Regions from separate parts of the Homo sapiens genome. Here region 2 is linked to region 1. The links come from fine-mapping of genetic effects on gene expression. Tissue or cell type: whole blood. Region 1 holds a variant in brackets; the other region holds the start of a gene. All regions are shown on one strand. Distances are from middle to middle.

Region 1 (7,925 bases):
ATTATTACTATAGAGACAGGGTCTCCTTATGTTGCCCAGGCTGGTCTTAAACTCCTGGCCTCACGAATTCCTCCTGCCTTGGCTTCCCAAAGTGCTGGGATGACAGGTTGCAGCCAACATGCCCGGCACAAGCCATAATTTTGTACTTCTTTACTGATGGATATTTAGATTGCTCCACTTTTTTTTTTTTTAAAAAAGGAAAGAATGCTTACTTATGGCTGGGCACGGTGGCTCACGTCTGTAATCCCAGCACTTTGGGAGGCAGGTGGATCACCTGAGGTCAGGAGTTCAAGACCAACCTGGGCAACATGGTGAAACACCATCTCTACTAAAATTACGAACAATTAGCCAGGCGTGGTGGCGCACGCCTGTAATCCCAGTCAGAGTCTTGTTTTGTCACCCAGGCCGGAGTGCAATGGTGCAATCTTGGCTCACTGCAACCTCCACCTCCTGGGTTCAAACGATTCTCCTGCCTCAGCCTCCCAAGTAGCTGGGATTACAGGCGCGTGTCACCACACCTGGCTAATTTTTGTATCTTTAGTAGAAATGGGGTTTTACCATGTTTGCCAGGCTGGTCTCGAACTCCTGACCTCAGGTGATCTACCCACCTCAGCCTCCCAAAGTGCTGGGATTACAGGCATGAGCCACCATGCCCAGCCTGTTTTTTTTGTTTGTTTGTTTTTTGAGACAGAGTTTTACTCTTGTTGCCCAGGCAGGAGTGCAGTGGCGTGATCTTGGCTCACTGCAACCTCTGCCTCCTGGGTTCAAGTGATTCTCCTGCCTCAGACTCCTGAGTAGCTGGGATTACAGGCGCCCGCCACCACTCCAGGTTAATTTTTTGTATTGTTAGTAGAGACAGGATTTCACCATGTTGGCCAGGCTGGTTTTGAACTCCTGGTCTCAAGCAATCCACCCGTCTCAGCCTCCCAAAGCGCTGGGATTACAGGCATGAGCCACTATGCCTGGCCCCAGCCTGTTTTTTTTTTTAATAGAGATGGGGTCTCACTATGTTGCTCAGGCTGGTCTCGAACTCCTGCATTCAAGCAATCTGCCTGCCTCGGCCTCTCAAAGTGCTGGGATGACAGATGTGAGCCACTAGTTCCACTGTGTTTCTCTAGTCTCTTCTCCACCAGGTCATGCAATCACTGTCCTCTTCATCTCCCTGCTATTGAGTCCACAGTGGAAGGTCGGAACAAACTATTAGAATTATGTCACTAAGATCACCTAGTCTTAAAAATCACCGTTACGAGGGTCAGGTGCAGTGGCTCACATCTGTAATCCTAGCACTTTGGGAGGCCGAGGCAGGAGGATCACCTGAGCCCAGGAGTTCCAGACCAGCCTGGGTAACAAAGTGAGACCCCACCTCTACAAAAAATCAAAAAGTTAGCCGGGCGTGGTGGCACATCCCTGTAATCCCAGCTACTTGGGAGGCTGAGGCAGGAGAATCACTTGAACCCGAGACGTGGAGGTTGCAGTGAGTGGAGATTGTGCCACTGCACTCCAGCCTGGGCAACAGAGTGAGACTCTGTCTCAAAAAAAAAAAAAATCACCATGGGTTCAATGATCACAGTTTTATGATCTTGTAGGGAAGTTCATCTGAGTTTTACTCCCAAATTTTCTTTCCATATGAATTTTAAAATCATCTTTAAAAACAGAGGTTGGAATTTTGATAGGGAGTCAATGGATTTACAGATGAATTTAGGGAGAACTTAAATCTTTTCTCTTTTTTTTGAGACAGAGTCTTGCTCTGTCGCCCAGGCTGGAGTGCAGTGGCGCGATCTCGGCTCACTGCAACCTCCGCCTCCCAGGTTCACGCCATTCTCCTGCCTCAGCCTCCCGAGTAGCTGGGACTATAGGTGCCTGCCACCACGCCCGGCTAATTTTGTTTTTGTATTTTTAGTAGAGACGGGGTTTCACTGTGTTAGCCAGGATGGTCTCAATCTCCTGACCTTGTGATCCACCCGCTTCAGCCTCCCAAAGTGTTGGGATTACAGGCGTGAGCCACTGCTTAAATCTTCACAGCAGAAGAATAAAATGTCTACTTATTTAGGTCTTTTCAAATACCTTGAGTGTTGTACTTTTATTTATACTGACTTTATATATTTTAGTATCAGGATTACTCCTACGGACTTGGTGGCATTCTTTTCTTGTGATTGTGATGGAGATCACTTTTCTTTTCTTTTTCGAGACTGAGTCTCACTATCACCCAGGCTGGAATGCAGTGGTGCGAACTCCGCTTGCTGCAGCCTCCACCTCCCAGTTCAGGCCTCAGCCTGCTGAGTAGCTGGGATTACAGGTGCGCACCACCACGCCTGGCTAATTTGTGTATTTTTAGTAGAGATGGGGTTTCACCATGTTGGCCAGGCTGGTCTCAAACTCCTGACCTCAAACCTCAAGTGATCCGCCTGCCTCGGCCTCCCAAAGTGCTGGGACTACAGGTGTGAGCCACTGCAACCTCCTGAGATCTCTTTTCAATAACATTTTCTAATTGATTACTGCTACTATATAGCAAAGTTCTCTAAAACTAATTTCTAAGCCGGATGAAGTCATAAGAAGCATACTTGGTAAAGGATGAAATATTCTAACTCACAACAGTCATACTAATAATAAAGGGAATACCAATAATAAAGGAAAATATAAAAGTCCTAAGACTCATCAAAGGACAC[G/A]GACAGCTTCCGGGATGGGAGCACATAGGGCCGTTCATCACCTCTCCCCTCCTGTAAGTGTCCCTGCTTCTAGGCAAGACACACAAGCATCCACGAAAAGCAGGCGCCAGTTTCTGACTGTTGCATTGGAAACATTGCCGACACGAGAATGCCCAGTGCTGCCATGGCACCACTGACTGCTACTCTCAGCACCGTAGCAGGGGAAGCAAATTCGGGAATAGTTTGTCATGATACACGTCATAGGACATCAAAATCTTCACAACCTTTAACTCTTAATAGTTTACGTACAACGGATGTAATGGGGACATTTACAAATGAAGAAAGAATCAACAGATAAATGATTTAGAAAATGATGGTTTATCCAAGCAATGGAGAAGAGCTATAAAAATCTGTATGAAAGGGAATATTCTCATGTGCATAAAAAAAGAAACAGGGACCAATCCAGCCCCTAACCCTCAATTACGTACACACGTGTGTATCCAAATACCAATCCAGCCCCTAACCCTCAATGATGTATACATGTGTTTATCCAAATAAAATTATTATTATTATTTTTTGAGACAGGGTCTCCCTGTCATCCAGGCTGGATCATAGCTCACTGTAGCCTCAACCTCCCTGGCTTAAGCGATCCTCCCACCTCAGCCTCCCAGGTAGCTGGGACTATAGGCATGTCGTGCCTGGCTAATTTTTTTTTTTTTTGGTAGAGATGGTGGTCTCACCGTGTTACCCAGACTGGGCGTAAGCAATCTGCCTGCCTTGGCCTCTGAAAGTGCTGGGATTACAGGTGTGAGCCACCATACCCAGCCACATAAATTGAAAGACATATACCAAGTGTTTCAAGAGTTGGACTGGGAACAGGGGTAATGTGTGGCTGTGTATTCCCCTTTATACCTTCTCAATGTTCCCATTTTCTCTCCTAAGCCCCTATAACATTTGAAATCAGACAGGTGTGGTGTCTTATGCCTGTGATCCCAGCATTTCAGGAGACTGAGGCAGGAGGATCACTTCAGCTCAGGAGTTGGAGACCAGTCTGGGCAACATAGTGAGACCTCATCTCTATTAAATAATTTTAAGGCCGGGCGTGGTGGCTCACGCCTGTAATCCCAGCACTTTGGGAGGCTGAGGCGGGCAGATCACGAGGTCAGGTGATCAAGACCATCCTGGCTAACACGGTGAAACCCCGTCTCTACTAAAAATACAAAAAATTAGCCGGGCGTGGTGGCGGGCACCTGTAGTCCTAGCTACTCAGGAGGCCAAGGCAGGAGAATGGCATGAACCCGGGAGGTGGAGCTTGCAGTGACCTGAGATTGCGCTACTGCACTGCAGCCTGGGAAACAGAGGAAGACTCTGTCTCAAAAAAAAAAAAAAAAAAAAAAATATAAAACAAAAAAATTTGAACTCAACCAAAGTAAAACGTTAACAGAAAGGGATCTGGCCTAAACACAGCCTCATCCCTAACCAGGTCTAGACAAGTGCCAGGGTCTGAACAGGAGAGGCAGTGCAAGTGATCCCTGGAGGGCAGGATGTCTCCAAGTCAATGCTTGAGAAAGACAGAAATATTCACCATCCACCACCCCAGCTGCTCCTGGACACTAGGTGCTGGCTTATGGGTCACTTGTGAGTGGTGGAAACACATCTTTCAATGGAAAAAATACCACAGTCTGCTCTCAGGCAGTTACGATACTCCATATGCAAAGGAGACGAAGGACCAAAGAAGGAAAGGAAGCACCTGTCGGCTTTCCAGTCAGGAAAATTCAATTTGTAGACAAAGACCTTGGTCAAAGGCAGAAATCCTCACACCGAAGAGTGTGGAGCAGTGGCCCCATGGCCAATCAAGAGCAGGACTCTCCCATCAGGCACGGCACCTTCTAGGGGCCAATTCCCACCCTACACCCTCTGCCCGGCTAGACCACCCTTGGAGAAGCTGCTCAGCGACAGGAATGCTGCCTTTGAAAGGAGAATGTGGGTTTGCTTCCTTCTGCTTTTTGGTACTGTCCATCCCCTCTCTATTGAGCTTATAGAAATTTTAAAAGGACACATTTTCTTGTTAAAGAAATCAAAGGGCCGGGCATGGTGGCTCATGTCTGTAATCCCAGCACTTTGGGGGGCTGAGGTGGGCAGATCAAGAGGTCAGGAGTTCGAGACCAGCCTGACCAACATAGTGAAACACGTCTCTATTAAAAATACAAACGTTAGCTGTGCGTGGTGTCGGGCGCCTGTAATCCCAGCTACTCGGGAAGCTGAGGCAGGAGAATCACTTGAACCCGGGAGGCGGAGGTTGCAGTGAGCTGAGATCACACCACTGCACTCCAGCCTGGGCGACAGAGTGAGATTCCGCCTCGAAAAAAAAAAAAATCAAAACACCCCCACGGCAGTCTGAGGGTGGCCCAAGCTCATGGGGGCCAATGCCCCAATGCCCCTCTTGCTGAGATCCTTAGCCAGTGGGCAGCAGCCTGCCTCCAGCTCCCCAGCCCAGGAGCTGTTCCTCGGCAGGTTACCACTCCCAAGGCCACTGTTAGAAAGCGCTGTCTGTCCCTGTCACAGCCCTGCAGGGAAGTCCACCTGGCGCTGAGGACTCTGGCCACAGGTGAAGCTCCCAAGGCACTCCCACACCTGCTAGACACAATCACAGATGTACCAACAACAGTAACTAACACCCTAAGGGCCTTCTAAGGGTTCCGAGCAGCCACACCAGAGTCAGCACCACCCTGGTGTTCTCAACGGTGTCGGGGATTTGGCTGTTCTTCCTGAACCAAACCTTCACTGACAGGACGTTTTCCTGGTTCTCCAGCTGCCTCCTGACCCATCCCCAGTCTCCACTCCCCCTGCCCTCCTCCCTGACCCCAATCTTCTCAGCCTGGTGGTGCCCAGGACTAGGCCTGGCCCCTTCTTCCAACGTTTCCAGAGGACACAAACCACCTATACCTAGGGACTCCTAAAACCTGTCTCCCCTGGCAGACTCTGATCCTGGCACCACCTGCCCACCAAGGTCTCCATGGCGCCTCCCAGACATCTCACAGTGGGCAGATCCAAAACGGAGCTCCTCAGTGTCCCCAAGCCAGAGCCTGCACAGCCTTTGCTGGCCCCTCCACCCGGGGACTCACCCTCCTTCTCCCAAGGCCCACTCCTGCGGAGCACTCCTCCCCCCACTCAGCTTTTCCCACGGCCAGGCAGCTCTCCTGGCCTCCTGCCCTCCACTGTGTCTCCACCCAGCCAGAGCAGTTTCACAGTAAACATCTCAGACCTCCAGTCCACGCCAAAATCTTCCCGCATACATCAACTGGACCCTCCATGCTGCCTCCAGGACCTGCAGGACCACAGCTGGACTGAGCCAACCCCTGCTCCCTCTCCCAGCCCTGGGAATTTCACCTTCCCGCATATGCCAAGGTCCTCCTTGCCTCAGGCAGTTTCACTCAGGCTCAAGTCTGCCTCTCCCCACCTTGCCCGGTGCCAGCAGCTTCTCAGCCCTCAGATCTTGCCCTCAGTGCCACGGCCTCCCCTGAACCCTCAGGACCAGCCACTGTTCTTCACCAGCGCCCTGCTCTTTTCCACATAGGATGTACACCATGTGCCATCTGCCTCTGCCCATCTGTGCCTGGCTTCTCACCAGCCTCTCCTACCAGCTGTGGCCTCTTGAGAGGAAACAGGTCTGTCTTATTCAACACTGCACAGTCAGAAGTAAAACCGGAACTGGCCATGGCTGGTCTTCAAAAAGAATGAAGCAAAGACTACGCCTCTCTTTCCCCAAGTATTATCCGACCAGTCCAAAACGAGAGAGAGGTAAACACGTGGTAATAAATGGTAAAGGAAAATAATTCTTCTCAATCTTCAGTGGTTTGAAATGCCTCTGGATTGAACCCCAGTTATAACCCCACACCATTTGCTCAAAGTACCTGTGACGAAATCTCAGGTAAGTTCTCAGGGTCGGTGTCCGCCTTCTGAGGAGCTGGTAAGACGGGTGGATTTGCTGGTTTTAACCCAGCAATTTCTGGCCTCATCTTCTGCTCTTCCTCTAGCCTGAAAGCCAGAGCTGAATAACAGAAGCTATTTTATTTCAAATATGCCACAAGGCCTACAAGAGATTTAAACTGCTTTATAAAAACACTTGGCAGGCACTATCCATTACAAATCAACATTATGATACCTGATAGTCACTGAAATGAATTCAACAATGTCCCAAGGGAATGAAATCTTTTTCAAAACACTTGGCAGTTTGTGTCCTTGTCCATAACACAGAACCCCACATCTTTTGCCTTCCTATTTTCCATTCAGGGACGTTCAGCATGTGGCAGGTGGGCAGGAGCCCTTTAGCTTTGCTCCAAAGAGAAGCATCTTAGACCAAGTGAGAAGAGATTCTCCACATCCTCACCAGAACTCTGCCTGGTCTTTTCCAAACACACGCTAATGAGTGCTACGAAATTTGTGTGGTTATTTAGGCTGAGTGTTCAAGCCCACCAGCTGACTTACTCTATAAGGGAGGCTGGACATATCAGTACTTACACCAGAGACCTAGAAAGTAGTCAGACAGCATCAAATTAACATCTGTGTTCTAGCCAGGTGGTTACATACAGCTCTACCTTTCTCTTTATCTTGATTTCTTGCCAATTCGTTGCCATATATGCCTCCTGGAGCTGTTTAAGGTAGAATGCAAGATTGCTTCTGCCCAATCAACCCTCAACACAGATATCGTTTTCAAGTACACGTGTTTCTGATACCTTTCCAATGGTCAGCCAAGTTGATGTAGAAGAGGAGTCCACAGAAAAGCAGAAAGGCAAGGAGGAAGAGAATCATATTCCGCTGCAATCTCGACAGTTGCTTCCATTTCTAAGGGAGGTACAGAGAATGACATTTCTTACTGAATATATCACACGGAACGTCTCAACTGTCACAAACTGTGAGGACAATAAGGAATTCTTCTGGAAGATCCAGTGTTCAGCTCTATTTCTTTTTTTTTTTGGAAACAGGGTCTCATTCTGTTACACCTAGGCTGGAGTGTAGTGGGTGGAACGCGGGATGAGCCACCGTGCCCGGCCAGCTCTATTTATTTTGAATGGGGAGAAGTTCCCTCTCAGCAGGGAGTAGGAACATTGCTGGGACAATACTACAGATGTCGTTAATACAGTGGTGCAGATGAGACGAGGATAAGAAAAAAGCAGAAACATTTCTGTCACATTTCATCAACAGTGGAGAAAGACTCCTGCGACTCCCACAGATGTAGCCCAGGCACCGCCCAGGCGATGCACAGTCCGCATGTGGTTA
Region 2 (5,000 bases), 38 kb after region 1:
ACAGACGTGAGCCACACAGCACAAGCTTCTGATGTGGAGACTGAGGCAGGGCAGCCAAGATGTCAGCAGGCCTCAGGAAAGCCCCCCTCCCTGGGAGGTCTGAGCCCTGCGTGGGCGGGAGGCTCCGAGTTCCCTCCCCCAGGGGTTCTCCCCTAACCTCTCTGCATCCGCATGTTCCCAGCTCAGCCGGGGTCATGTGCAGCACATCTGGAGGCCCCATCCCCGAGAGGGTCCTGGAAGCCGAGAGCTGCCCCACCCAGAGGCCCCTCCACCCCTTCAGCTCCTGCCAGCTTCCCTCTGACGCTCTCCCAAGTCTGCCTTCCAGGGTCCCTGAGTCCATGCCAGGAAGGGGCGTTCCCCCGCCCTCACTCCGTCTCAAAGAGAGCTCAGCCTCAGCCTTTGTCCTGGCCGCTCTGGGCTCCCTGCCTCTCCCTCCGCAGGCGAAGCTGGGCACTCGGCCATGAGCCTGTCTCCCCGGGGCAGAGTCCAGCTCCCCTCTCCCTCCCCATCCTCTCAGGCCTGGCAGACCTCCCACTCCCTGGCTTGAGCTTTTTGTCCATGAAAAGAGTCCAGAACACCAGGAAGCCCCGCTGGGCCTGGAGGGAAGCGGGGTACCGCAGGCCAGTGGGGGTCGCAGCACCCTGCCTCTGGGCGGCCTTTGTTCCTTCCTTTTCAGGCATGATGTGCACTGTGCGTGCCTCTCCCTCCTCTGGGCGGTCAGGGGTGGAAGAAAGGCCTGGGGTGTGTGGGGGGAAACTGGGGCCTGGGGCCTGGAGCTTAGCACCGGCAACACCCAGAGATTGCCTGCTGGAGCCCCGCCAGGCTGGGCTGTGAGGCTGAGGCAGCAGAGAGGCTTCCCAGGGTTCCCACCCCTCCCTTTGGGGTCCTGAGCTGGAAGAAAGATGCCTTTACTGGGCCTGTGGCGCCAGACCCTCAGCCCAGGCAGCAATCCCAGCACAATTGTCACTGCCCGTTCCAGAAGGCCGGGCATGGTCTGGACCCTGCCCCATGGGGCTGCCCTTTGGGCCCCAGCAGCCTGCACTCCCTGGTGGCCTTGCCTCGTGGCTCCCTGACGCTGTGTGGCTGGAATTATTGGGACAAGAATTCCCACTTTGCAGCAGGCGCAAAGGGGGTGGCCCCTGGCCGGGCTGGGATGCGGGGCCTGTGAGGCTGCAGAGCCGAAAGGCCAGCCATGTCGTGGGACGGAGGAGCAGGGCTTGCGTCTGGGGCCAGCTGCGCTTCGCCTGCCCCAGCCGTCCCCAGAAGCCTGTTGCTGACCCGCACCCCAAGCTTGGCCTGGGGACCCTCTTCCTTGCCTTTCAGGCCACGTAGAGGCCCCACCTGTTTCCGTCCTGGGGAAGCCTCCTCTGGCCTCCGCAGCCCAAGCCTCTGTTCCCCTCAGGCCGAGGGGGCAGCAGGCGCGGCTGAGGCCCTGGGCTGGGAGGTATGGACCTTTGGCCCGGTCTGTGCTGCTTCTCCTGTTTCTCGGCTCGGTGTGACCTGGGCCGTCCCTCCCCTTCCCCGTTCCTGCGTCCTCACCTTCACCTCAGTACAGGGCCCAGGTGAGGTGGATCTGACTGGGCCTCAAGGGTAGTTCTGGCCTGGGTCAGCTGCGTGTCTCTGGAGCTGACCTGCGCTGGCTCAGCGCCGCAGGCTGGCGGATCCTTGCTGGCCGGGAGGGCATCCCGCAGGCCAGCCTGGTCCTCACCAGCCCTGGGAGTTGGCGCTCAGGGCCCTGCTCCACAAACAGGTGCTGACCCTCGGCTTCCTCCTGAGTCCCCAGCCCGGGCCCCGCGTGGCTCCGCAGCCGACAGTGCCTCATTCCTGCAAGCGAGTCTGGCCTCCTTTCCCGGGCCCGGGAAAAGCGCGGCTCTCCAGCACAGGACCCTCCGAGCCAGCCTCGCCCGCCCACCCCCACGCCAGGTCTCCTGCCTCCACGGCCGGGGGATCCCCTTGCTGAGTGGGCGGGAAGGGGAAGGTGGGCCATAGCCGCGGGGCGCCCGGGCTCAGACCCGGGAGCCGGGGGGCGGTGCTGGTGACTCAGCCGCGCCCGCGTCTCTCACCTGCGCGGGCCGGACGGCGGAAGCTTGGGAGCGGAGGCGAAACCTGTCCGCCCGTGGGCGTGGCCGGTGATGGGCGGGCCCGCCCGGCCTCCCGCCCCTCGTCCCGCCCCGGGGCCCCTACCCCGCGGTCCCGCGGCCCCGCCCGCCTCCGCCTCCGGCTCCCCGCACTCTCCGGGTCCACGCATCGTCCTCCCGCGCGCCCGCCCGCCCATGGCCGGGAAGGTGCGGTCACTGCTGCCGCCGCTGCTGCTGGCCGCCGCGGGCCTCGCCGGCCTCCTACTGCTGTGCGTCCCCACCCGCGACGTCCGGGAGCCGCCCGCCCTCAAGGTGCGCGCCCGGGCACCCAGCGCACGTCTGGGGAGCAGCGGGCCGGGCTTGGAGCCGGGGAGGGGGTGCGGCTGGGAACCTGAGCAGGATCAGCCCGGGACCCCCACCGTGCTCTGCTCCTGGCGGGCTGGGTGGGGTCCCGGGTTCCGCGCTCTGCGCTCCCCGACCGGGTACGCGGAGGGGGCGGGGGGCGGTGGCGCTTCCAGGGCGACGCGGTGCTGAAGGAACAAGTCCCGGGAGTTCCGCGCCCGCCGCCGAGTCCGTCAACGCAGCCCAGGGGCTGTGTCCCCGCTCCCGGGATAGCCCAGCGATGCCCCCTGGGTGCTGCCGGACGCCCGCCCCCAGGCCTGTGCGGGCCCCCAGGGGCACTCCGGGCCACTTCTGCCCTGTGCCGCCGCCCCGGAGGGTGCGGTTAGAGCCACATCGACTGGGTATTCAGCCCAGATGGGGATCCACAAGCCCCAGGACCCAGGGCCCCCGCCAGGACACGAGAGTGGCCCAGAAAGACAGGAGGGCTTGACCGGAGCAGCCCTGGCCGGTCCTCAAAAGGTTGGAGCAGGCTAGCCTGGATCTCCACTCCAGCAGGCCCAGGGACCTCCTGGTCGGCCCCTTTAACCCTTTATTGGGCTTGTAGGGGGGTGGGGTGGAGAGCCAAGTCCCCCAGCCTGATGGGGAGTCAGAAGCAGGGAGCTCTGCGGCCCTGCAGGACGGCCATGTGGCGGTGCACGCGCTGACCTGTTGATGCTCTGGGCTCTGGGGAAGCCTTGGTCGGGATGGACTGGTGCGGCCCTCTCGGAGGCTGGAATTGGCGCCCGGGCCTGGGAGGCTGGTCCCCAGCTTTCCAGGTGGATCCAGGATGCTGGGGCAGGAGCTGGAAAAGGGCATTTACAAGCTCGTGCCACTCAGGTCTGCAGGAAGGCCCACCCAGCACCCCCAACAAGGCAGGGCCAGCCTCTCTCTCTGGCCCTGGCTTGGAGGCCTAGGGAGAGTGTCTTTAGAGCTGACCTGGCTCTGAGGCCCACGGCCAGCCTCGGTGGACCTTCTTCACCTGGGGCCCTGCCTCCTGCATCCTCAGGTTGGGCTGCCGTCAGAGGAGCTGGAAGGAGACAGAGGAGGAAGGAAGAGGGGAGGAAGGAAGAGGGACTCTAGGGAGCTCCTCTTGCAGAGGAGCTTCCTCTCCCTGAGCCTGGGAAACTTGTGCCCCAGGGAAAAGTCCCTGGGGACCCTCTGTCCCTCTGTCCCTGACTCAGTCCCTCAGTCTGCCCTTGCCAGGAAGGCTGCTGCCCAGACCCTGGCATGCTGGCTTCAGGTAGTCAGGAGGGAAGAGTCACCTCCCCACCACCTCCCTGTTCTCCTTCCAACCACGGCCTCAGAGGAGGCCCTGGCCTCCTCTGAGCTTCAGCATGAGGCTTGGCACATGACTGGGTGGGGGGGGGAGCGGTGGCAAACTGGAGGAACCCAACTTCACGTTTGGTGTCAGGGTGTCAGGGCCCCCGGACACCCCAGGCTGACTCCCTCCCCCTCCCCCGCAGTATGGCATCGTCCTGGACGCTGGTTCTTCACACACGTCCATGTTTATCTACAAGTGGCCGGCAGACAAGGAGAACGACACAGGCATTGTGGGCCAGCACAGCTCCTGTGATGTTCCAGGTGAGGCCCAGCCCAGCCCAGCCAGGACGCCCACTCACTGCAGGGTCTCTGGGACCCTCTCCAGCCTTAGCCAGTGCAGGTCCTTCTGCTTAGTGTTGGGTGGGGCTCACTCCAGGCAGAAGCCCTGGAAAGAGAGAGGCTGGTGCCCCTGCGCCTGAGTGGGGCCAGGAGTCGTTTGCATTCTAGAAAGGAAGCCTAGGCAGCAGGTGGGGAGGTTTGAGCCTCGCCGGGCCCAGTATTGGCTTCTGTGCCCCAGATGGAGCAGGAGGAGGTCTGGGGGCCTGGCGGACACACCCAGGCAGGCCTCAGGAGGCCAACCTGGGTTGACCATGCCCAGGGCTTTGTCCTAGCACCTGCACCCACACCCTCTCAGCAGGCAGCAGCCTTGGTCTCCGGGTGGCACCTGGGCCCCTTTGTCTCCAACCTGGGCGTTTCTGGGGGCTTAAGCAGGGAAGGTGTGCCACCTGGTCTGGGAGCCCACGGCCCCCACCCCCACCCTCACTCTCCTGGCCTACGGCCCACCTAGGGGCTGCCCGTGAGGCATAGGCTCATCTCTCTGCCTCCCTCTAGGTGGGGGCATCTCCAGCTATGCAGACAACCCTTCTGGGGCCAGCCAGAGTCTTGTTGGATGCCTCGAACAGGCGCTTCAGGATGTGCCCAAAGAGAGACACGCGGGCACACCCCTCTACCTGGGAGCCACAGCGGGTATGCGCCTGCTCAAGTGAGTGTGCCTGTGCCCTGGCCCTGTCCCCATGATGGCCTTTGGCTGTGACCCCTTGCAGGGCGGACTCCGAGCACCCCTACAGCAGGCTCACAGCCACCTGGGGAGAAGGCCTCTTGGAGTTCTCTGTGTTTTGCAGCCTGACCAATCCAGAGGCCTCGACCAGTGTGCTCATGGCAGTGACTCACACACTGACCCAGTACCCCTTTGACTTCCGGGGTGCACGCATCCTCTCGGGC

What was found. PIP is the estimated chance that this variant, and not a neighbour inherited with it, causes the effect. A credible set is the group of variants that fine-mapping cannot tell apart.
Region 2: it holds the start of ENTPD2, and the variant in region 1 is the best candidate, but not a certain one, in a credible set for the expression of ENTPD2 in whole blood (INTERVAL, PIP 0.67).

What each region holds. Positions count from the first base shown.
Region 1 is chr9:137,087,640-137,095,564 of GRCh38, reverse strand. MAN1B1 (mannosidase alpha class 1B member 1) reads right to left here. Exons shown (of 13, transcript NM_016219.5): 2 at 7,382-7,490; 3 at 6,560-6,696. It overlaps LOC124902338 (small nucleolar RNA SNORD62), which reads right to left and starts at 1,220; the gene lies at 1,135-1,220. The variant G/A (reference allele first, on the strand shown) is at 2,667.
Region 2 is chr9:137,051,271-137,056,270 of GRCh38, reverse strand. It overlaps ENTPD2 (ectonucleoside triphosphate diphosphohydrolase 2), which reads left to right and starts at 2,210. Exons shown (of 9, transcript NM_203468.3): 1 at 2,210-2,390; 2 at 3,923-4,040; 3 at 4,611-4,761; 4 at 4,901-5,000. The coding sequence starts at 2,274. LOC105376327 (a long non-coding RNA gene) reads right to left here and starts at 3,926. Exons shown (of 2, transcript XR_930455.2): 1 at 3,396-3,926; 2 at 2,896-3,261. RefSeq lists silencers at 1,975-2,054, 2,155-2,224.